Regions from separate parts of the Homo sapiens genome. Here all the other regions are linked to region 4. The links come from fine-mapping of genetic effects on gene expression. A gene starts in region 4. Each other region holds a variant in brackets. All regions are shown on one strand. Distances are between the middles of the regions.

Region 1 (6,126 bases), 45 kb after region 4:
AAGATAATCTTAGTTCATGAGCAGAAGCTTCCTTAAGCACCAGGAAAGATGTAAGGCACTGGGGGCAGGAGCTGAATGTTTTCTATATTCACAGACCCTGGTGTCCCCAACACATTGATAGGGCCCTTAGGAACTGTGTGAGTCTTTTTTTTTTTTTTCCAGTCCCTGAGTGGGAAACCAGGAATTGCTGAACAAGCAAAGAGCTAATGTGTAAGGTACAGTGAAAGAGGGTATTGGCCTCAGTGTTACGAAACTGTAATCAGCAAAGGTATATGCAAAGGTATATGAAAGTGAGAGAGAGAGAGAGAAAGTGTGTATATGTGTGCGTATGTGTGCTTATGCAAAAGGACAGTGAGGGACACGTGATGTAGAACTGCAGGCAGGGGTATAGACCTGATGGGAGGGCCTGGCACAAATGTCCAGTGCTTATGAGTGAGCAGTGGAGGCCCAGGTGGGGGTGGGGTGCCCAGGCTTCCTGACAGGGGGTTAGAGACAGCCAAATGACATCATTAGCCTTTCCCCTCCTGTTGTAGCAGCAGCCCTCATCCGCCCCCAGGGCAAGCCTTCCCAGGATTCTTTAGAGGGAGGGGACACCTGTGTGTAGCCAGCTGTAGCAGCAATCACAAGGGAAACAGCACAGGAGAGAACAGGAAAGGGATGGTTCCTGGCCTCAGTAACTGTGCTCTGGTGGCCAGAGTATGGCTTCTGTACCTCATCTGTGAATCAGACATTGAAAGTCAAGCTGCTGAGAAAGGTGTGGCCAAGCCTCTTCCTTTGTTTGGTCAGTCCTTCACTGACTTCACTGACTGAAGGACAAAGTGGCAGGGGCTGCTTAGTACCCCTGTGTGTGAGGGCAAGAAGGACACCGATGGCAACCCTGAGTGCTACCTGCCACCCTGAGCCCCCTACCACTCCGCATTCCTCCATAGGTCCCTTCTGTCCCTCTCAGCCCTTCTGTCTTCTTTTTGTTTATTTGTTTTTTAAGACAGGGTCTTGCTCTGTTGCCCAGGATAAAGTACAGTGACATGATCATGACTCACTGCAGCCTCAACTTCCAGGGCTCAAGTGATCCTCCTATCCCAGCCTCCCAAGTAGCTGGGAGCACAGGCACACACCCATGCCTGGCCATTTTATTTTATTTATTTATTTATATTTTGAGATGGAGTCTAGCTCTGTCGCCCAGGCGCCATCTTGGCTCACTGCAACCTCTGCCTCCCAGGCTCAAGCCATTCTGCCTCTGCCTTCCGAATAGCTGGGACTACAGGCGTGTACCACCACGCCCAGCTAATTTTTGTATTTTTAGTAGAGATGAGGTTTCACCATGTTGGTCAGGCGGTCTCAAACTCATGGGCTCAAGTGATCTGCCTGTCTTGGCCTTTCAAAGTGCTGGGATTACAGATGTGAGCCACCGTGCCTGGCCTGCCTGGCCACTTAAAAAAAAAAATTTAGTAGAGATAGTTGCCTAGGCTGGTCTTGAACTCCTAGGCTCAAGTGATCCTCCTTGAGGATCCCAAAGTGGAGCCACTAGTACCTAGCCTTGTTTTCTTGATTAAGTCTTGCTGTAGTCATCTGAGGATAGGGGTGTGCTTTTATTGGGAGAAGGCCACAGAGCAGTTTATGATAGTCCCTGCTGCCTGCCCCCTCTACCTGGTGCCTGCCCCTCTGGCTGCTGGCCAGGAGCTATGTCCAAAGCAGCGTGGTTCCCAGGCCTGGGGCCTCTTGGCAGTTGGCACACAAGTTAGAGGTCCTGGACCTGGTCCTTTGTTCCCAGGGAATAGCTCAGTGCCTGGCATTTTAGGCATGCCTGCCATCTGAACTGCGGCTTCTCTGGGTAGAGTTATGTGGAAGGACCAAGATCCTTCCTGGATTTCTGGGCAGGAAGAGTTTGTCAGATTGTGGGTGCTTCAGGGTGGCAGGAACCCAGGGCAAGGTGGGGAGAGGAGGATCCTGCTTTGGTCACAGCCTGATCAGCCCCAGGGCTTGCAGAAGTTGGGTGTGCAGGAGCAGCAGATGGGAACTCAGGTTCTGGAGAGGGATAGGCTGGGAAGTGGGATTCCAGAGCCTCTCCAGCTCCTCTTTCCCTGGTTTGTATTGGTTTCTGTGCCTTGCCTAAGCACCCTTTAACCTCTCCTCAAAGTGTCAAGATCCCGAAATAGCAGTATAGACTCAGACAGGAAATGAGAAGGGGGTGGGGAGCTGGAGAGCAGACAGACAGGAAACGGGAGGCCTGTTGGCCCCCAGAGAGGAAGCTAACTTCAGGCAGCTCCGGTGTCAGTCAGCTTCAGCCAGAGCCTGCTGCCTAATCTCAGCTGGGCCTGGTGTTGTAGCTCCAGAGTCTCTCTGTAGTTTGGGGTGTGGCTGGCCAACATGGCACTGGTTTTCCAGCTGTTGGGGAGAAAGGCCCCGCAGGGCAGTTTGGGAGGAGCTTTCCTATAAAGACCCCCAGAAATTCTGAAGGAGTAGAGCACTCTAGATTAGGGTTTCATCCTGAGCGTTTTATGTTTCTGCTATGGAATGAACCTGTCATATAACAGTTCCCTAGATTTGCCCTTGACTTTCATTCCAGGAATATCTCAGCCCAAAAGAACTGAAAGCAGAAGGGAAAATAATGCCCTGGGATATGGTCCTTAGGTGCTTTGTTGTCTACCTTCCTGGCTGAGGGGGACCCACGTACTCAGGTTGACTCTGAGTGGTCATAGACATCCTGGAGTTCCTTGAGTTCCTGTTCATCTCCCATGCTTTTTCTGGTTCTGCCAAACTCAACATGACTAAATACAGAACTTCTATACATCTCTGCTCACTGCTTTCTAAAACTCCTCTCCTTAAACTT[A/G]GTAGAGAGTGCTTTGCCCCAGGATGCCTCTGTTCCAGAGCTCTCCTTGACCCTTCCTGCTGGGGTCTTGACTGAGGCTTCAGTCAAGTTGGAGACTTGCTGGCTTCGGTCAAGCACAACTCTGCACACGGGCCTGTAGTAAATGCTCTTGATGCTTCCTAAATTCTTCCAACAAACACTGAGCAAGGACATGTGGAGGGATGCAGAAAATAATTGAGCCAGGGTCTGGCCCTTAAGGAGGGAGTACCTGAGAGCTTGTTTGTCTGAAGCACCTTCACGATAAAGCAAGTGGCATTAGAAGGGCCTGAACTTTCCCCATCCCTGACTTCCCTGCCTAGGGGAAGTCCATGACCGTGGATGGGTCTGTCATGGGTTTTGATCTTCAGAATTTTCTTAGCCTGGTGCTGGGTTCCAGGAGGAGGAGGTGTTGGGTCAGAGGCATGTCACCCCCCTCATCCTTGACCCACTTTTAGCAGACCCCTTCCACTGTGTTTCCTTTATCTGCAGGTGGGTGCGGGAATTTCTGAATGATGAAAACAAAGGCCTGGATGTACTGGTGGATTACCTGTCCTTTGCCCAGTGTTCTGTCATGTGAGTACCACCCCGGGGCTGAAGTTGGGGACCAGTTGGGGGAGGACATAGTTCCATTCTACTTTGATAAGGAAGGGTGAGAGTTCAACAATGAAGATGGAAATGGGAATCCTGGACAGGAAGGAGTAGCCCAAGCAGTGGTGTGGAAGTAGGCAGGCAAGCCCGGAGATGTCTGGGGATCAGTGAAGAATGGCACTTGGCTGGAGTAGAAGATAAGATGCATTTTGGAGAACAGGACAGAGAGATGGAAAGGGAGCTTGGAATCAGAACCCAAGGCATCCAAATGCCAAGCTGTGAGCAATCCAGGGAAATGTCCTGGCTTCTGGTAGAGATGCCTTGGTGGGATCCATTCATCTTTGCAGAGTTGAGTCTTCCAGAAGCAACTTTGGGTTTCCAGATGTGAGAAGGTTACTCCAGGTCATTGTTGAAGAACCCAGGAACAGTGAGTTCCTTTTGACCTGGATAGAAAAATGAAGTATTCAGGAGTCTTTTTCTAGCAGGCAGGGGGGCTTGGAGGCAGCCAGAAGTGAGTTAGCACAGAAAAGGCGGCCTGGTATAGTGGAAGGAATGAGAGCTCTTGAGTCAGACAAAGCTGGGTTTGGGTTTCAGTTCTGTTATTTACTATCTGTGTGACTTCAAAGCAAGTTTGTGTCTTCTTCTATGAAAGGAGATCCACATTCCAGGGTTGTTGTGAAAATTAGATGATAACGTGTGTTAAAGCACTTAGTATTATTTGGAACATACCGGGTCTGTATTGTGGTAGCAGATCTATTGTTAATTTCATTATTATTATTTAAAGTGGCATACCCTACCACAATTACCTGAATATATGAAATTACATAATAAACATAATGACCAACACATTTAGACTTACACCTAAGACAGGTCAGCCTTAGGGAGACCAATCTTCCCAGTTTGCCCATAACTTTCCCTAGTTTTCCCCAGCGTCCCAGGAAACTCCTCCATCCTAGGACTTAGCCCTGACATTTTTTTGAGACAGGGTCTTGCTCAGTTGCCCAGGCTGGAGTGCAGTGGCACGATCTTGGCTCACCACAGGCTTGACTTCCTGGGCTCAAGCAGTCTTCCTGCCTCAGTCCTGCCTCAGCCTTGCTGAGTAGCTGGGACCACAGGTGTATACCACCATGCTTAGCTAACTTTTTGTGTGTTTTTAGTAGGGACGGGGTTTCACCATGCTGCCCAGGCTGGCCTCGAACTCCTGGGCTCAAGCGATCCACCCTGCTTTGGCCTTCCAAAGTGCTGGGATTGCAGGCGTGAGCCGCTGCTCCCAACCAGCTTCCACTTTTCTAACTACTGTCCTTGCCCCCTTGGCCATTCTTCTTTGTCCAGCAGGTCTTCAGTGTCATCCCCTTAGGAATTTGATGCTTCTTCTATGTTCGGCGCCTCTCACCTTTTCCAGGTTATCCTGTTAAAACCAAGAGTGGCCCACTGCATTCTTGTCTCAGCAGAAGTCATACCTCGTGTGATTCTCTTATCTCCTAAAAAAAATTCTTTTTATAGAAAGAAATGAAAAACATTTGGTGAAATAATTTTTCTTAAAAAATTCAGAGCTTTTATAGTAAAAAATGTAGCTCATTTTTCCAAATAAGCCTCTCTCTCTTACTTGAAAAGCAAACAAATTCCAGCCACCCTAAACCAAGAGTACCCTGGAACCTCAGTATTGTAGTGTCCATGGCAATACCTTTGACTCTGTTTTTAAAAAAGAAGGACTTTGTGTGGGGGAGAGAATGTGTGTTTTAGGAAGGATTGAGAGGGAAAGGGTGAGGCTAAATAGAGTTGGAGTGAAGATAATTGTTTGTAAACTGCATATACCAGTACAAGAGGATACAGTGTTACTGATGGAATCAGCAAGCTGTTTCCCTGTCAGGAGGTTCCTCTGATGTCTACTTGAGAGCCCCATTAAACACCTCCTGATCATGAGGACACTAAAGCCTGCTCCCACTTCCTTTGGAACATTCTGACGTCTGTAAATATCCCTTCCTATTCCAGAAAGCCTCAACCTCTGTGCCTTTGACCCCATGTCTGAGCAGAATGCTTCTTGGGGGAGAAGAACCTGTAAGAGATGCTCCCTTAGTCTTTAATGACCTACATGGAGGAAGAGGACAAGAAGGAGGAGAGGGACTGTTTCTCAGAGGGGTATATCCTGAAGTGAGGATGATAAGAGAGGAGTCCCTGTGAGTTTGTGATCTTGGCCATCTTCCTTGTCCTGGCCACATTGACAAACTGCTGACGGTCGCTGGGTGCAGTGGCTCACACATGTAATCCCAGAGCTTTGGGAGGCCAAGATGAGAGATTGCTTGAGCCCAGGAGTTTTAAGACCAGACTGGGTAACATAGCAAGACTCCATCTCTACAAGAAAATTTTAAAAAATTAGCCAGGCATGGTGGCACGCACCTGTAGTCCCAGCTACTCGGGAGGCTGAGGCTGGAGGATTGCTTAAGCCCAGGAGTTAGAGGTTACAGTGAGCCATGACTGTGCCACTGTATTCCAGCCTGGGCCACAGAGTGAGACCCTGTCTCTTTAAAAAATAATAATAATAATAATTGCTGATGGTGGAAGACATCTGTTCCAGGAGCAGAAAGTGACAAACCATTCAACTCCTGCAGAGGCTATACTACAGGACCCTGGTCTACAATCTCAACTTGTAATTTCTTCCCCCAGGGAAACTGAAGCCCAGGGAGCCTGTA
Region 2 (6,126 bases), 120 kb after region 4:
GAGTCTCACTCTGTTGCCCAGGCTAGAGTGCAGTGGCATGATCTCGGCTCACTGCAACCTCCAACTCCCAGGTTCAAGAGATTCTCCTGCCTCAGCCACCTGAGTAGCTGAGATTATAGGTGCACACCACCACGCCCAGCTAATTTTTGTATTTTTAGTAGAGACTGGGTTTCACCATGTTGGTCAGGCTGGTCTCGAACTCCTGATCATGTGCTCTGCCCACCTCGGCCTCCCAAAGTGCTGGGATTACAGGCGTGAGCCACTGCACTCTAGGGTTTACAATATAAATCTTTAACTTATCATAGTCTACTTTCAAATAATATTATTTCATGTGTAAGAACCTTACAATAGTATACATCTATTTCTTCCCTCCCGGCCTTTGTCCTACTGTTGTCATACATTTTGTCTCTATGTAACTTATAAATCCCCTAATGCAGTTGGCCCTCTGTATCTATGGGTTCTGCATCTGTGGATTCAATCAACCACAGATCAAAAATATTCGGAGAAAAAAATAGATGGTTGTGTCTGTGCTGAACATGAACAGACTTTTTTTTCTTGTTATTCCCTAAACAGTATAACAACTACTTAGATAGTGTTTATATTATATTAGGTATTATAAGTAATCTAGAGACCATTTAATATATACAGGAGGATGTGGGTGGGTGATATGCAAACACTGCACCATTTTATATAAGCATGTGAGCATCCACAAATTTTGGTGCCTGTGAGGAGTCCTGGAGCCAATACCCCACGGATAGCAAGGGACAACTGTACATTGTTATTACTTTTCCCTTAAGCAAAGGGAAAAGAATAATCTATTTACCCCCACACTTAACATTTCCAGTGCTCCTTACTCTTTTGTGTAGATCCAAATGTATTTTGGGTATCATTTTCCTTCTGCCTGAAGGATTCCTTTAACATTTCTCACACTGCTTATCTGCTGGTGATGAATCCTCTCAGCTTTGGTGTCTGAAAAGGTTTATTCAGCTTTCAGTTTTGAAAGATGTTTTTGCTGGATGTAGAATTCTAGGTGGGCAGCTTTTTCTTTCGGTATTTTACAGATGTAAACACAAACTCTTCCCAGGGATATATGAGCTCTGAGGATGGTTCTGCCTGTTCTTGCCCAGTGATTCTTCCCCCAGCCTTGGTGGTTTCCTCCCAGGCCTGCACAGAGACTTAACGGGACCCCTCTGCAGAGCTTTGGAGATTCCTTGCCATGTGGCTTCCTCCTCTCTGGTACTCTGGTTTTCAAATTCTAGTCACCTTGGCTTCCCTGATACCCAGATGCTGTCTCCTCATCTCAGCAAGGCTGCTGGCTTCTGTTTGGGTTCCCTGCCCTGTGCTGGGGCCTGGACATTGTCTCATTTGTTTCATTCCTTTTGGGGATCATTGACCTGCACTGCCTGTTGTCTGAATGGGTATACATCATTTTTTCATCTATTCTGTTTGGCCTACTAGTTGTTTACAGGAGAATAGTAAACTAGTCCTTGTTATTCCATTATCACTAGTTTATCTCCTCAAAAAAAATCCTATACTATTAAGATTCATTTTAAATGTTAAAAGTTCCAAGAATTCCTATATACTAGTAGTTTTACTTTTTATTTATTCAATTTTTGTACAATTTTAAGTATGTACTTACATTCTTGGGCTCTTGGCAAAAAATCCATTGCCCCTCAGGGGACCATGCCCTATGGGTTAGGAACCATATGGGTTTAGGCCAACAGAATGAGAAGGTATCACTCACTCTCTTAATCTCTACACTTGGAGCCTATCCTCATCTTTTCCATGTCCTTACTGAGACCTCGTGTTTTTCCTCTGAAAACTAACACTAGCAGAAACCTTACTCTTTCACCCCCTCCCCACCACCCCACTTTACCTTGGCAGAATTCAGTAAAGTAACCATCCAAAATGTATAGACCTGGTTTTAACATTCATACATCAAGTACAACCCAAATAAATCCCAAGATGTTATGTGATCTGGTTATGCCATTGTATCCATTATATCCCATTCAGAGATATAATGCTCACTCACCTGCCAAAAATAATAAAAAAGTAACCCCAATCTTTAATTGGGTCACTCATAATCACTAAAGTGGGTCCAACTTATAATTCACAATCATGAGATTTTCTTATTTTTTCCTCTCCTCTGCCATTCTCTCATATCCAGAAAACCTCTTTAAACTCCAAAACAGTCTTTGACACCCAAACTTCCTTTTCTCTTTGTTTAGATAAATGATTACTAATCTATGGGCCATACACCACTGAGGGATAATGGATCCATGTGTATACCACTAATTGTCTATATACTGAATTACTAAAAAAAAACTTATATTGGAATCCTTGAAACTTCTGACATTTAAAATAAATGCAAAATAGTATACAATTAAAAAAAAAAGGCCAAAGAGATAACAGCTGAAACTTGGGAATAATGGAATAAAAGACTCCTATATTCTCCTCTTTTGACTTTTTTTTTTTTTTTTTTTTTTT[G/TG]GAGACAGAGTCTCGCTATTGCCAGGCTGGAGTGCAGTGGTGCGATCTCGGCTCACTGCAACTTCTGCCTCCTGCGTTCAAGCAATTTTCCTGCCTCAGCCTTCCGAGTAGCTGGGACTACAGATGCACGCCACCACACCCAGCTAATTTTTGTATTTTTAGTAGAGACGGGGTTTCACCATGTTGGCCAGGATGGTCTCAATCTCTTGACCTCATGATCTGCCTGACTTGGCTTCCTAAAGTGCTGGGATTACAGGCATGAGCCACCGCGCCCAGCCTTGATTCTTTATTATAGATATATAGATATAGATTTAACTTCTTTGTCTTTTTTTTTTCACTGATGTTTTGCCCGTTTCTAGATTCTCTACAACAGATGTAAAACAGGAACCCAGCAAATTAGAATTCATACCCTTTGGGACGATTAATAATTTTGTCCCCATTATACAAGTATTGAGTTTATATCCATATCCATCTTTCATATGGCAGGAATAGCTCTCTGCACCACCCATGAGTATGGGATCTTTCCCTGCCAGACTCCTTCATTTGCAACACTGGCTTTGGGATGAGCAGCCCTCAGCTCAAGACCTGAGGCTCAGGCTGCCAGGAGCAGAAAAGCAGCAAGTGCCGACGTGGTCCCTAGGGGCAGCTTGGAGGGATTGGAGGAGCCCAAAGTTGTGAGTCAGAGCCTGCTGGGACCTGCCCTAGGGTTGGGTCAGGAGGTACCACCTGCCCCCGAGTCTTGAGTGGCAGTGGCCTGAGTCTAGGGGAGGCAGCATGCTGAGGCATTGGTGTGAGGGCTGGCATCAGGCAGCCAGAAGAGCCTTGGCCATGGAGGTTTCATATCACCTTATACCAGTCCAGATAATCTCCTAGAGGCATCTTGACTGGCTGTTTGTTTGGGGATTGAGAATGAAAGGGATATGACAATTCTTTGAGTGGCTGTGAAGGTTCCCCCAGCTCCTCACCCAGTGCCAGGGCTGGGGCTGGACGAAAAGATACCCAGTGCAGTCCAGGCACAACCTGGCCCCCTGCCATGAACCCTGCCTGGAGCTGCTCTCATGGGTTCCAGCTGCTCTGGTTTCATTTTCTTCCTTGCTGTTTTGCCCATTATCCAGCTTCCTCACAACAAAGGAGAAAACAGGAACTAACACAGCAAAAAAGAGTTCAAGGAGTTTCCAGCAAAGGTCTGATACCTTGTGGTCCCAGGGTTTCTAATTGAAGGGATTCCCTGGGCCTTACCCTCTCCACTCAGCCCTGAGTCCAGCAGGGGCACCAACAAACAGACAAAGCCTCCTCACGACCTAGAGAGGAGATAACTTCCTGTTTCCCTGATGCCTCTCTGCTGGTTCCTCTAGCTCCAGCTGGAGTGGAACGTTCACCTGAACATCCCTGAGGTCACCTCGCCAAAGCCAAAGAAATGCAAGTTGCCTGCAGCCTCACCCCGGCACATCCGCCCCAGTGGCCCCACCTACAAGCAGCCCTTTCTGTCTAGGCACCGGGCATGTGTGCCCCTGCAGATGGCCCGGTAGGTTCTGGGAAGCTGAGGGGGCAGCAGCTGTATGGGTGAAGAGGCAGGGAGCAGGGGTGACCAGCCTGGGGAGGTGGGCAGTGAAGTGAGGGCACCAACAGGCCAATATCACCCTACGAGTTGCAAAGTGCCTGTCTTCTCAGCTGCCCTCCCCAGTGCTGGCCACTGACCCACAGGTGGGGTGTATGTCATAGTGTGTGGGCTTCAGGGACTAGCCTGACCAGTGCATTTCAAACTATGCGACGGAAAGACTCTGAGGACCCACACCTGAAAACTTATAACCTTTCTACCCTGAGCATCGATTTGGCATCTGCCGTTGGTCTGTCCTATAAACAAGCCTGAACCTCCCCACCATGTGACCTGCAGGCTCTGGAGACACTGTGAACCTCTGGGGCGCTAAAAGGACCCTGGTCCACACCTACCCTTGCATGGCCTAGATCAGGGCTTCTGCCCCAGGGCCTGTTCCTTGAAGGACAGGGGCCGCCCTGGGAACCTCTTCCAGCAGCTCCTCAGCCAGAGGAGCCCCAAGGAAGTGAGATTCAGACTCAGTGTTGGAGGGGAGATGAGGAGGGCAGTGACACACTCGATTTGAGAAGGGAAGGAGACAAAGCTCACTTGGGCCTGATGGCTCTGGAGAGTCTCTTGCATCTCAATCTCTCTCTGTTGCTTTTCACATTCTCCAAACTCCCCACTCCCAGCCAACAGGGGAAGCAGATGGAGGCTGTCTGGAAGACCGAGGTGGCCTCCTCCAGTTACGCAATAGAAAAAAAGACCCCTGCCAGCCTTCCCCGGGACCAGCTGAGGGGACACCCAGATATTCCCCGGCTGTTGACACTGGACGTGTAGTCCTCCTGCCACAAAAGCCTGAACTTCCTGAAGGCCCAGTAAGGTGCGAGGCTGATGGTCAATGTGGATTCTCCCCAATAAATCTCTCTCCAGGCTTTAACAATGACCTCATTTGCTATCCCACACCAGATAGAGAGAGGCTAACCTGGTTCCTTTGCTCGGCGGCTGTAAGCGGGGTCCCCATGCCAACAGCACTTCGGTTCTGGTGAAGGGTTTCCTTAGTGTCTCAGAGGCCACCAGGGGGCTTTTCCTTCACACTGGCCTCCTGGGCTGCACATAAATTCTGAAGAGCCCCATCTCACCCTAGCCTTGGGGGTGGTTCTCAGGGGAGCCAGGTGTAGGGAGGGAGAGATGAGGGAGCCCTTGGACTGCCTGAGAAACCTGAGCCTTGGGCCTGGGCCTGTCACTTCCTTTCCTTACTATCTTCAAGAACGGTCCCTAGAAAGAACAGCTGAGGGGACAGAGGTGGGACTCCAGGGGCCAACAAGAGGCTTTTCTGGTTAGAAGTCTTAGCTCTCCTTTGCCTCTCTGGGCTTGTAGATGTCACTACTGGAGGCTCAAGGCTCTTTTAAGGACCCTCTCTACATGAGCAATCCCATCTGCCTCCTGTGACCCTGGCCCTGTGTCAGTTACAGATCCCCAATGGGGAGAGGGTCCTGATGCCTCCAGTCTAGACCTAACCAGAGCCAAGAGCCTGAAGATACTGGTGCTTCTCCCATCCTCCAACTGGAGACCTCAGTGAGACAGGGAGGCATAGCAGCATCAAAGAGGGCGAATCCCTGGCCGCACCTGCGCTCTGAAATGGGCCAGCATTCCAGCTGAGAGTCCTATCATTCCAGCCCACCCAGTGCAGAAACCTGGTTTCCAATTCCTGGAGGGTTTCCAAGGGGGATGTGCATGTGTGTTGCTGTTGGTTGTTGATTTAGATACAGCGAACAGAATGGAGAATAACCAAAACAACACTGTGGGAGAACACTGTAACCCAGTGGTCAACTGGGGCCTGGCCTGGCAGAGATTTGGTTAAACTTACCCAAAGACCTCCCCATCGTGGGGTCTCTCCTCTCCGCATCCCTTCCCTGCCTGGGATCTGCCCAGCTTCTGAGTCTCGGGCAAGCCCCTTTGTTCTTTCCACACACGGAGATATGTGCATATAAATATCAGGGGTATGCACCCCACTTGAGCCCATACACTCATGACGTCAGTAACTTTCTGAAAATATAGAGGGATAGTGAGAAACGGGATTCATTTTGAACAGCACCAAGCAG
Region 3 (6,126 bases), 33 kb after region 4:
TAAACATATATATTGATTGTCCAAGAAAAGGTGAAGAAACATTAACCATAAGTCACAATTCCATGAACACATTTAAAAGTAATTAGTAAATGTGCAGAGACACTGTTAGGGGAGTGGATGTTACTACTGTCATTTATGAAGGATTTGCTAGAGATGGTAGATTTCACCTGTTGTGAATTGGAGGAGGAGCATGGCTGGCAATTCGAAAGGAGGTAATCTCTCTGGGGTACAATGGAGTAGAAAACTTAGGGACAGAAGGAATATACGAATGGAGAAATTCGATTTGCCCAATCTTTATTGCTCACCTATTAAAGTGCTAAACAAGCTGATGGTGATTCCTGTTCTCAGAAGCCTGTGTTCTAGCAGGTTATAAGAAGATGAGTCTGGTTAAAGAGAAGAGCAGGGAAGTGGCTTAGATTATGGCATAAACTGAAGTTGAAACTCAGAATGAAAAGTAGGAGTTTGCTGAGGGGAAAGCAATATATAAAGTGATTTGTGCTATAGGACATAAGACAGATTATAGATAAGAGAACTCAGAAATAGTAAGGACAGTGGTAAAAAGTTAAAGGATCCTCCCTTTCCCCAGTTAACCAGGAGACCAAATAAGGGACTTGGTGGTAGGAGTGGTAGGAGCAGGATCAATCACTTATTTATTAAGCACCTGCACATGATTCAAAGAAGGATAAGACGGCCCCTACCCTTAAGGAGTTTATGTTCTTTCTAGTTGTGAATAGAGAAAGCATATGCAAAAAAAAAAAAAAAAAAAAAAAACCCACTATGAAACATTCAATTTGTGCTAAAGGTCCATGGTATCAGTGTCCTGGTATTTTCTCTCTTGTTATTTCATCCATGTGGATTTCATTTCCAAGGTCACTTCATGGTCTAAAATAGTTGTTGAAGGTTCGTCCACTGTCTATATTCCAACTAGCTAGAAGCAGAAAGGAGAAAAGAAGGTTATATTCCCTCCCTTTAATGACATTTCTCAGAAGTTGTGCACACGACTTCTGTTTACATCCCACATGATCACATAGCCATACCTAAATGCAAGGGAAGCTGACAAACATATTAATTCTAGGCTGTCAAGTGTCCAACTCAGCGTTGGAGGTTCACTACTAAGGAGGAGGAGGAGAAGAGGTTGGGGGATAACAGGCAGGTCTCTGCCATTTTATTCTTTAAATGTGATTATGCTTGGAGCTCAAGAGAGGGGCTGATTATTTTAGGTTGGGTAGTCATAGAGCTACTGGATTTTAAGTCAGGTAGTAGGTAGTAGGTAGGGAGTCAGCAGATTGGGGAAACATCAATCACAAGCAAATCCTAGGGTTAAGGAATGGGAAGAGTGGCTGTCCCAGGAGAGAGAGATTCCATAGAGTGGGAGAGGATGAGGCTGGTCAGAGAAGCTGGGGCCAGCCTGGAGAGAATCTTACCTCAGAAGCTCTTACTGTAAGATGCTAAGAACAATAGGCCAAGGAGCTCAGGTTTTCTCATATAAATGATAAGGAGTCAAAAAAGATTTCTGAACCAAGGAGAAACATGATTTATCTTATGTGCTTGGAAGTTTGAAAGTTTCATTCATGTGCAGGATGGCAGGGAGGAAAGTATTGGAAGTAGGGATGCCAGCTAGAAGCTTATCCCAGAGGGCGGCAAGTGAACAGTAACGGCCCACCCAGGTGATGACAGTGGGAATGGAAGGGCAAATATAGATGAGAGACCTTGGGAGGGAGACTCACTGGGCCTGTTGGTATGAGGAGAAAGGGAGTTGTGACCCCAGAAATATTGTGTCCTCTGAGAGGTAGCACTGCCCATTGGGCTCCCCAGGTGGGAGGACAGAACCTCATGAAGAGAGGGAGGTCGTTGGTTGGCTGCAGGGAGAATGCGAGGCTCTGCCCCAAGACTCCTTGGCTTTGGAAAATAAGCTGCCCCCAGCAGAATACTTTCCATTCTGCGTAACTGGGGAGTGTGTGGGTCTGGCTAACCACGAGGAGGGGCCGAGGAGCCAATAGACAGATCAAGTTGCTGTGGCAGTAGCTTTTTACTAGGGCCTGGGTGCTCAGTTGGGAAGCGCTGACAGAAGCTCCTATCGGAGATTGTATATTTTTTGACTGGGCAGGCCAGAAAGGGTGGCCTTAATCAGGGTTTGGGGACCTCAGGGTTACCTGCAGAGGTTATCTCATGTCAGGTATGAGGCCAACAGTGTGGCAGAGGAAAGAGTTTGAGGCTTTACCAACTTTGGGGACATGGCCAATATCCTTTGCCTTCTCAGGATCCGGTGGAGGAATTCTCTAGGATGAAGAAGAGGCCCCGGGGGTATAATTGTATTTAGAAAAAGCCATCTCTTTGTTTGAATGATGCTGGCCTTTTAGGACCTCTCCTTCATCTGACTTCCCTGGTGTGAACTGCAGAGCTCAACCAGAGACATCTGGTGAATCCATTTCTTTTTCTTCCAGGCTGCTCAGGGACTTGGCCCGTAACTGCTCAGCAAGTCATTTCTGGTTACAGAGTCCTCAGTGACCACAAAAGCACGTTCTCCAGACATGGTTCCGAGCCTGTGAGAGCTGGCTTTTCCCTGGCAGCTCATCACCAGAGTGGTAGCTTCAATTGAACAAAACCTGCAAGGCAGATCTAAGATACTACAGACACTTAAGGAGCACCCATTTTTCTTATGCCTTTTGTCATGTGGTACCTAAGCAATTTGTTCAGATGTCTAAGAGGGCAGCTGGGGCCTAGAGAAAGCTGTGTAGCTAGACTTGTACTCACATGCTTCTGTGTGTGGGGTCACATAAGGAAGGAGATGAGTAGTAATGGGGAGCTGCCCTGGGGAGGCTGTAGAGTTTGGCAGGACCAGGGCTGGAGGCCTAGAGTCCAGGGAGGTAACTGCTGCCTTTCATCCTTTATATTCTTGAGTGCTTTGGTGTGGTGGTGGGGTGGTACAGCTGAAGTGTTTGCCCCTACTCTATCGAGGCAGGGCAGGGGGTTGCCTGTCCTTCTGGCCAAGTGTTATTGACTGTTCTGTGATTTCCTTTCTGCCACAGGATATAGATCTTTGCCCAGAACCTTTCATAGTTGACTCAGCCCATTTCAGGCTGTCTGTTTCAAGTTATCTTCTCCAAACCCGAGCTCTGGAGAGGAGGATGGGAGGGAGTCAAAGCAAGGAGAGCAGTCTTGAGCTTTGTCTCCCCAGGTTGGCAGCGAAGCCAGGCTTGGCCTTGGTCTGTGAGAGCTGCAGTGAGATCTGACCATCCATCTGTTCCATTTCCTCCCCTGTGCTACCCCAGCCAGTCACAAGGCTGGGGAAAAGTGTGGGTGTTTGGAGGGGCTGCCGTACTTCCCATGTCTGGACCTTTTAAAATTTTAGCTCTTGGACCTTTGATCAAACTCTCTGATTTTTTTTGATTCCCTTTTACAAAGGATTGCAGTTTTGAGGGGAGTTAGAAGGAGCT[G/A]TGCTGGAACAATGAGATAAACAAACAGTGACGTGGAGGCGGCGGCAGCAGCAGTGTAGGCAATGGGCTGGGCCGGCTGGCCTGCCGTCTGGGCGGGCTGGGTGGAGGAGGACTCCCGCCCTGCTCACTGGCCAGCTGGCTTGTGTTAAAGTGCTGGCTGAAAATAACTCTCATTGTCTAGGAGCTGCTACTGCGGCAGGACTGGCTGTGGCCGCCAAGGGGCCAAGGCAGCAGGAGCTGGTACCTCCCACCTCCTTGGGCTCTTGCCCTTTGGGAGCAGGGCCCAACTGGCCACAGCTGTGCCTACTGCCCACCAGTAGAGACATGTGGAGGCCGTTCCTTACACTCTGTCCTTTTGGCAGCTAGTAATGGGCCTTTGTGCCTTGTGTTGCCTGCTTTGCCACTGGCTTGGGGCAGATCTGTTGGTTTGTGAGGGGAATCCTAGTGGGAACATGGGAACATGGGGTGGGAACACTGTGTTACAGCTCCTCCTTCAGCAGTCTTCTGGACTCCCAAATTTTGTGTCCACTTGCCACTTTCCATCTTTGCTCATCTGCTCAATGAGCTGATCTGTGGATGCCACGGAGGACTTGGACCTGCGGTCAGGGGCTCAGCAGCACGTTGAGAAGTGTGTGGTGCCCAGGACAGCACTCATTTAATCTGTGGGGCAGTTCTAGATTCAGTTTCTCAGGACTCCCTGTCCCCATGGGCTGAGTGTGGGGGCTGAGGCTACCACACTTGGGAGAAGACAGCCATAGGAAACCTGGTGGGAGGTGGTTCAAGAGGGAAAACATTAATAAAACTACCTCTCACTTTCTGTATTTGCTCAAAACAAACAGCCCCTGCTGGAGCTTCCCTAAAGCCTCCAGTTTCTTTCCCAGGAACATTACAAACGTCTCTCTCCCTGTCTCTCGAAGCTATGCCATTTTGGTCTCTGTTCCTAAGATTTATCATGATAGGGACCAACAAAAACAGTTGGGAATTTTTGGTGGTTCCTATTTCTGTTTTTTGGGTTTTCCCCAGGCCTGGCTCAAGAAGACTGTCAGAGTAGGGGCAAGTCCCAGAGCAGAGCTCACAGCTTTGAAGGAAACTCCAAACCCTACCGGCATTTCCCTTCCCCTGCAGTGGGAAGGAAATGAGGAGGGGCTCACTGGGCTGGGGGTGCAGAGTGGGAAAGGGAAGGGAACCTCTGCCACCAGAGCTGCCTCCCTCCTTGGCTTGACTGGGGCTGTCAGGGGTCAGGTGGAGAGTTAGGAAACCTTGCTGGAGGGACCAGGCCTTGCTCACATGCACCCCATTGTGCAGGGAGATTTGCCTGGCCTCAAACTGGCAAACAGAGCAGCCTTGCTGGAGAAGCACCAGCTCCATGCCTTTCGGCTTCTTCCCATTATAGATTTTTATTATTAGATGTTTTGCTGGTTCCCTGTGATTTAGGAATCGGTCCCAGAGTTGCTTTCAGTTTGAGTTCATCTTCCCCTTTTCCTCACATCTCCTATTGTGACTGTTTTGGCTGTGACTTACCTCCCTTACTTCTTCCTTGGAGTCTCCTGCCATGTCCCCCACCCCTCAAGATAATGATACCAAAATTGGCGCCTAGTCTTAGAGGAAGCCAGAGCAGGATCAGTGAAGGGATAATGGATTGCTCTGTAGTCAGAGTGTTGCGAAGCAATTGCTGAAGGTGGGATGGAGGCAGAGAGAGAGAGACAGCCTAGAAGCAAGAGGGCAGGTCCCTCGGACATCAGAACATGACACAAGATTTTCGGGAGGAAGCAGGCGGTGAGGGGGACTGTGTTGAACACCCACAGTGTTCCAGACACATACAGACATAAAATATTTATCTTTTAATCCTCAGCTAAAACCCTGTGAAGTAGTGAGATTATCTCGTTTATGGATGCGTTCACCAAGGCTCCATAACTCTGAAGAGCCCAAAGTTGATCTTGGGCCCTCTGACTTCACCCACATTTAGTGCCCTCTCCTTTCCAAGACAGCCACTGCCTCCTTTCTGCTCAGCAAGGGTCTCAATGAGGAGTTAGCAAGAACTTAGCTCAGCTTCTGCCTTCTGGGAGCCTACAGTGTCTGTGGAACCACTGAAGAAAAAATGTCAAGGAAACAAACTTTTGACTGAGACCGGAACTGTGTCAAATTTGCTACTTTGCTGTCCCCGGAACTCAGGAAGTTGTCATTCCTAAGGGCAGAGAGGCTTCCTTAGGACATTGGAGCCCTGCCAGACTCACACACATTATCAGGTAGAGGCAAAAGCCCTGATGCCCTTGTCTAGCAGGAAGAGAACTGTCCAGGCCAGGCTCTGGTTTATGCCCCCTTGGCAGGTGGCTCCCACTGGCAGCCAGTGACCCGTTTCTTCTGAGAATGCTGGAGCTTGGGGGAATTCCCCTTACCCACCTCCTTCCCTATCACACTTCAGCCCAGAAGAAGCAGAGAAGTCTGAGACCACTGTCAAGAAAGTGCCACCCAAAGCTCAAGACAGGAGGATATGGCTATGGTCAGACCTACTTCATGCCTCTACCACCCGTTTCCATACTTTGGGATCATTCCTTCCTGGGGATCTAGAGTTTGACCAGGTCCCTGCTGTGCCTCTTCCATGCTCTTAGGCCAGGACTCCCCAAGGGGGTGACTTTGCCCAGTTTTTCAAACCGAGGGGACCAAGTGTTTCCTCATCAGTTCACCTGGT
Region 4 (6,126 bases):
ATCCAATTGCTTAGTGGATATCTTTACTTGGATGTCCAAAGGGCAAATCAAACTCAACATGGCCCAAACTTGTTCCTGACCTTCCCTTTCCAGTTCCCCCTCACCAAACCTACTCCTCCTATCACTTCCCCCATTTCAATTAGTGAAAACTCCACCATCTTTGTTGCTCAAGTCAAATACTTTGCAGTTATCTTTCATTCACCCTCCACATTCAAACTATCAGGAAATTCCATCAGCTTTACTTTCAAGTCTTTAATAAGGAATCTGACCATTTCTTTCCACCGGTACAGTTACCACCCTGGTTCAAACCATCTCTCACCCAAATGATTGCACTAGCCTGCTAACTAGTCTCCCTGTCCATACTTCTATTGGTTTGTTTTCAATGCAAGAGCCAGAGTGATCCCTGTTACAAAACATGTTAGATCATACCACTCCTCTACTCAAAATCCTCCAATGGCTACCTATCCTACTTAGAGAAAACCGAAGTCCTCACACAATAGCCTACAATATCCTACACAATATATGGCTTCTGGTTACCTTTCTGACTTCATCTTTCACTACCCTTTTCCTTGCTCATTGCACTCCAGCTACACTGGCATCTTTGCTGTTCTTCTAATACATCAGAGATAGTATGCACTTGCCATTCCCTTTGTCTGGATAATTCTTCCCTAGATAGCCACATAGCTTATTTCCTTGCATCCTTCAGATCTTTATCCAAATGCTATCTTATTAGTGAGTCCTTCCTTGATCATCCTATTTAAAATATTTATTATGAGGGAGGGGAAGAAGGAGCCAATGCAATGACTAGTCTTTATTGGAGAGAAGATACTTTACAGCACATTTTGAGCAATTAGTGCCAGGGCTCACTGGGCCAACTTGTGGGACATCAGCTTGTAATGGGTTCATAGTTAGAGCATCACTGGGTCTCGCCTTTGTGCAGCCAGAACCAGTTGACAGCACTGTTGTCCTCTTCACCGATGCAGCTCACTATTATCTTGGTGATGGAGGGAGCTGTTAGGGTCTTCCCTGGTGCCTGAAGCTGCCTTTGGGGGTAATATATTGTATGGGTCCAATCTCATACATGGCTGTCATGAACTCCCTCTCCAGCCCAGTCATCTGCTTGTCATCAGTAGGAACGCCACCTCCAGATGCCATGAAGCACACTGCAACCACCCCATTGGGACTGTAAGCCCTCAGGCCTATGCGGCTAGCGCTCCAGCTCTGAAAATTAACCTTGAAGCCATCATGCCTGTGACAAGCAACAGCTGTGTTTATTTATTTATTGAGACAGAGCCTCACCCTGTCACCCAGGCTAGAGTGGAGTGCCATGAACATGGCTCACTACAGCCTCAACCTCCTAGTTTCAATTGATCCTCCTGCCTCAGCCTCCCAAGTAAGCAACTCTATTTAAAATCTTAATGCCTCTTCCATCTCTATCACCTTTCAGTTTTATTTTTATTAACACTGATCACTAACATCTATACATTTTACTCGTCTAGTTTATTGTCTACCTTTCCTTCTACACAGATTGTGAATTCCAAGAGGACACAATGTATATCCTGTTTGTTCGCAGATGTACCTTCAATGCCCAGAATAGTATCTGGCATAGAATAAACTTTCTAAAATAAATATTTGTTGAATAAATGAATTAAAAATCTAGGTGATAACTTCAGGCATGGTTAGATCCAGGTTCTTGGCATGTCATTAGAATTTTGTCCTGTCTCATAGCTTTTCTCTCCTCTGCGCTGGCTTCATTCTCAAGCAGGCTTGATGTGTTACAGGTGATGATAAGACGGCCACCAGCGGCTGCAGGTTTACATTCTAATAATTTTGCAGCCTAAATGGAGAGAGAGTGAGTGCCTCTTTCCTGATTGTTTCAGAGAAAGCCTTGGATATATCATATTGTCTGGGCTTGGGTCAAGTGACAATCCCTAAAACAGTGTCCATGGGTAGAGGAGGAAAATGTTGTGACTGACTGGGCCTGGGTCATGCGGTCCTTTGGAACTGGGGATAAAATTCAGCTCCATTTAGACTGAGAAGAGGGGAGAGGTGGTTTCCTAAAAGAAAAGGGGGTGCTCTCACTGGAAGAAGATGGCGGCTAGACAACAAATTTCCACCGCAAATGTCAACGACCCAGCCGCCGACTGAGCCCAGAACAGCGTTCTTCTCCCGCCTCTCCATTTTCACACGCAGCCAGATGGTTAAGCTTCTCTCCTCCCAAACGTTTTTTCCCCTGCCTCTGTCGGGTAAGGGCTTCCTCATCCCTCAATGCCTGGTCCAACTATGATCTCCCTCACCCCGACTCTTAACAGGTACTATCTCTCTCCCTCTTCTGAGTATCCTGCTTGTTTCTACTTCTCTTGTAGTTAGTTTTGTACGCCATGCCTTGTATAATATTTTACTTACTTGTATACATCATGAGTTCCTTTTGAAAAAGGGTACGGTCCATTCCCGGTGTGTCCACGCCAGCCCCTCACGCCCTCTGGGAACCGCGGTGATTCGATGCCGGCTGAGGCCGCCAGGGAGCGCTCGGCGCCCGGCACGAGGCCGTCAAGGGCGGGAGGCGCTGTGATTGGCAGACGCGGCCGTCAATCGGGCGCAGGTGGGGCGGGCCGGGCCGCCTGTGAGGCCTCTGGGCGGGAGGCGGGGCCTGCATGAATGGGGCGCGCGTCGCGCGGGCTGCAGTCGGCGCTCGCGGGGGAAGCCCGAGTCTCGGCCGGGTGTGGGTGGGAGGAAGCGAGGTTGGCGGGGGAAGGGAAAGAGCGCGGGGGGCGGGGAGGGGCAGCGCCCGGGCGGCGCGCCGAGCGCGGCGAGGCGGCGGGTGTGAGCAAGAGCCGGCCGCCTCCGTCCGCCTTGCTTCGGTGCGGCTGTCCGCTACGCTGCCTCCGCCCTCGCCGCGCGCCCCCGCCAGCGGGACTCCAGGGAACCCCCGGCGCCCTCGACGGGGCCGAGGAGTCGGGACTCGGGGAGCCGGCGCTGAGGGAGGAGCCTGGTCGGAGCCGCGGAGCCGAAAGCTCCGGAGCGTGGAGGTGGGGGGCCGAGGCCCCTGAGGGGGCCCCGCCGCGATGGGCAACCTGGAGAGCGCCGAGGGGGTCCCGGGAGAGCCCCCCTCTGTCCCGTTGTTGCTGCCGCCCGGCAAGATGCCGATGCCTGAGCCCTGTGAGCTGGAGGAAAGGTTCGCCCTGGTGCTGGTGAGAGCTGAGCCCAGCCCCTTCCCCCGCGTACCGCCCCTCAGGTCCCGACGCCCGGGCTGGGACTTTGTGCTGGGCCCCCGTCCCGCCCACCCTTTCAGTCGGGGTCCCGAACGGATCCCGGCCTCCAGTGTCTTCCCAGGAACCTCTGAGCAGCCGCTGGCCGGCCCGGACAGCCCCGTCGGGGATCTCGGGACCGACGCCTCCACCGCTGGACCCTTAGGAGAAGTCCCCAGTTCGGGACCGTCCTAGGAACCAGGCTTCTCCCTCCTTCTTCCTCCCCCTTCTGCTGCCCTTTTCCCGTTTCCCCGCTTCTTCGCCAGGCTCCCCGTCCCTAGCATTCTCAGCCCGGAGCCTCTCGCGGGTGGGGGGAATTCAGAAGCGCGGCCGGCTCGCTCCTCAGCAGGCTTCCCTGAGTGGGGACACCGCCTCTCCTGCGAACATGGAGGCTTCCCAGGGAGTGGGTCCCACTCCCAGCCCAGACCAGATGTTTGGGGGGAGAGGGGGATGGGGAGGCGGCTGGCAGCTCCTGAAGGGGGTGGAATAAAGAGTATGCCATTCTGCTTATTTTCAGAACGGCCTGCAGGCATCCTGCTAAGTTAGAGTGGATTTGCCTGAAAGGCTGAACATGTGGATAAACCATTTCACTGGGGTATTTCTCCAAGTGAAACAATACACAAACCATCCCGCCTCCTCCCCCCCTTTTCACGTTAAGCCATAGTGACTGGTTTGTGTTGTTTAGCCTGTGCTTTTTAGTCTTTCTGTGGGTTTCAAACGGTCTGTATAAATGGGTTTTTAGAGCTGACTTTGGGATTCTTCTTTGGTGTGGGAATTGGACATTGATGTCAGTGGCTCTATGAAGCGAGAGGTTCTGAGCTGGTATCACCGGGAAGGAGCCAGAAAATATGTTTGCGCTGAAAATGAAGTTTTGCAGAGCGAAAACATTGGTAAACCGGGGTTAATCTTTGAGAAATTTGGGGAAATAGTTCTCACTTCCCCAAAGAGTTTTCTAAGAAGCAGTAATAATTCTGGCGTTATTGTTGGTATGGCCGACTCTGCCTTTGCCTCTGCCCATCAGGAGGGATAAGTTGTGGACTTAGCAGCCTTATTGGATTTCATCTGCCTTGGAATAAGGAGATTAGATCTGTTGGCAACAGTGGAGCTGTCTAGAGATCTTGGCCTCTCCGATGGTAGAGAATCTGACATCAGCCCACTGGCACCAGAGCTGGCTCAAAGAGGGTCCACAGTGTTCCAAGGGGAAGTGGTGTCGCTGGCACCTCTCTGCCCGCCAGCTCTGCGAAGGGCCAAAGGGATGTGGGCCATACATCCTGTGGCCCTCTGCATTTCCCCCAGCCTCCTCGGGGGATCGGGTGAGTCAGTGATTACCAATGTGCTGTGACCATCTCACAGGCTGAGGAGGAGAGACTGGGACTTAGTGGCCTTGAGAACAAGAGCCCAACTGTTGGGGAAAAGAGTGGGAGGGGATCTGCACTCTGGTGGGGGTGTGAAAATCCCCAGCAAGCTGACACAAGTTAGCTATAGAAACTGGGGAGAAAGGGATGGGGTGAGGTGGATTGGGTGGGAGGCTGCCTTAGGTGGGAGCTGCCAGGCCATTTTTTGTGAGAGCTCAGAACCAGAATCCATCATGTTCTCATTGGCCCTTGGTTGACCATTTCGTTTAGTTAGCAAACTAATGGCTTAATATTCACAAAATGCACGTGATGTCCTAGTTAACCAGGACACCAGAGCACCAGGAGAACCCAGGTCAAATGGGGGACTGGACCACCCACTTGCATGCCTTCCTTTCTGTATAAAATTTTGATTTGTTTCCTCATGCCTTTTGTTTTGGTCTTGTTTCTGTGTGCCTGAGCTGCTGCTGATGAAGGGTTGGAACAGGGCAGGCCAGAGCTAGTTAGTTGTCTCAGGAGACGGGATTTCACCTCAGTTTTCCAATACAGGGAAATCATCCCTTCTTGGGGATTTGAGTTCTTCTCTGGGGGCTCTTAAGTGTCCCTGTGTCCACTGTTCTGAAAGGTACCCTTTCTACCATGCTTTGGGAACAGTACTGACTGAGTCAGGTGTTTGACCCAGGTACAGGCTTAGGGGTATTTCCTGAACAGTCAGGAGAAGCATAGTGTAGTAGAAAAATCAAGGACTCTGGCTTAGCAAGTATCTTAACTTCTCTGAGCCTAGACTTCTTCCTCATCTGTAAAATGGAGGTAATCCTGTTCTGGTGAGATTGTGAGAATTAGGTGAGCCCCTGTATATAAGGTGCTTGGCACCCAGTAAGTACTCAATATAGATTATAGATTAGCTTCTTTTTTTTTTTTTTTTTTTTTTTTTTGAGATGGAGTTTGGCTCTGTCATCCAGGCTGGAGTGCGGCAGCACGATCTCAGCTCACTGCAAACTCAGCCTCCCGGGTTCAAGCAGTTCTCCTGCTTCAGCCTCCCCAGTAGCTGGGATTACAGGCGCGTGCCACTAAGCCTGGCTAATTTTTGTGTTTTTAGTAGAGATGGGGTTTCGCCATGTTGGCCAGGCTGGTCTCGAACTCCTGACCTCAGGTGATCCACCCGCCTTGGCCTCCCAAAGTGCTGGGATTACAGGCATGAGCCACTGTGCCTGGCCAGATTAGCTTATTTTTGTTGATGGTGTGAAACAGTCAGATAAACTGTTCCTTTCTCACCTTTTTCTTTCCTAGATTGTCAGCTTCATTATAATTGGTTAGGTTTTTTGAAAAAGCTATTTGGGAGGTTTGTTGAGGTGACATAGTGGTGTCCTGGTTAAGCTTATGGACTTTGAAGTCAGAGTGGATTCAACTGTTTCATCCATAGTCTTTGGTTAGAAGAGTGTTTGACCTCAAGCAAGTTACTTAATCTGATTCCCAGTCTTCTCTTATACATGGGGATAATAATAGCATTTGCCACATGAGGTTGT

Alleles and levels. Alleles are on the strand shown, and positions count from the first base shown. SD is a standard deviation of normalised expression in the study named. Not every link is listed here.
As copies of G replace TG in region 2, the expression in memory regulatory T cells of the gene that starts at base 2,841 in region 4 goes up (large effect, 0.87 SD a copy in Schmiedel 2018).

The links.
Region 1: its variant is fine-mapped to the expression of FMNL3 in blood mononuclear cells (TOPMed, PIP above 0.99).
Region 2: its variant is fine-mapped to the expression of FMNL3 in memory regulatory T cells (Schmiedel 2018, PIP 0.95).
Region 3: its variant is fine-mapped to the expression of FMNL3 in testis (GTEx, PIP above 0.99).

Annotation. Positions count from the first base shown.
Region 1 is chr12:49,659,261-49,665,386 of GRCh38, reverse strand. It overlaps FMNL3 (formin like 3), which reads left to right. Exons shown (of 26, transcript NM_175736.5): 5 at 3,338-3,421. Among named protein-coding and RNA genes, the nearest start is that of PRPF40B, 39 kb to the right of the region's middle. RefSeq lists enhancers at 1,828-1,987, 1,561-2,499. The variant A/G (reference allele first, on the strand shown) is at 2,831.
Region 2 is chr12:49,586,340-49,592,465 of GRCh38, reverse strand. It overlaps FAM186B (family with sequence similarity 186 member B), which reads left to right. Exons shown (of 7, transcript NM_032130.3): 6 at 3,843-4,012; 7 at 4,714-4,961. The coding sequence ends at 4,861. Among named protein-coding and RNA genes, the nearest start is that of FAM186B, 16 kb to the left of the region's middle. The variant G/TG (reference allele first, on the strand shown) is at 2,488.
Region 3 is chr12:49,671,166-49,677,291 of GRCh38, reverse strand. All of the region lies in intron 1 of FMNL3 (formin like 3), which reads left to right. Among named protein-coding and RNA genes, the nearest start is that of FMNL3, 33 kb to the left of the region's middle. RefSeq lists enhancers at 2,633-2,712, 2,763-2,852, 3,076-3,774. The variant G/A (reference allele first, on the strand shown) is at 3,438.
Region 4 is chr12:49,704,120-49,710,245 of GRCh38, reverse strand. It overlaps FMNL3 (formin like 3), which reads left to right and starts at 2,841. Exons shown (of 26, transcript NM_175736.5): 1 at 2,841-3,191. The coding sequence starts at 3,066. It overlaps LOC124902929 (a long non-coding RNA gene), which reads right to left and starts at 2,520. Exons shown (of 3, transcript XR_007063299.1): 1 at 2,407-2,520. It also overlaps the pseudogene COX5BP5. RefSeq lists an enhancer at 2,258-2,407 and a silencer at 2,428-3,197.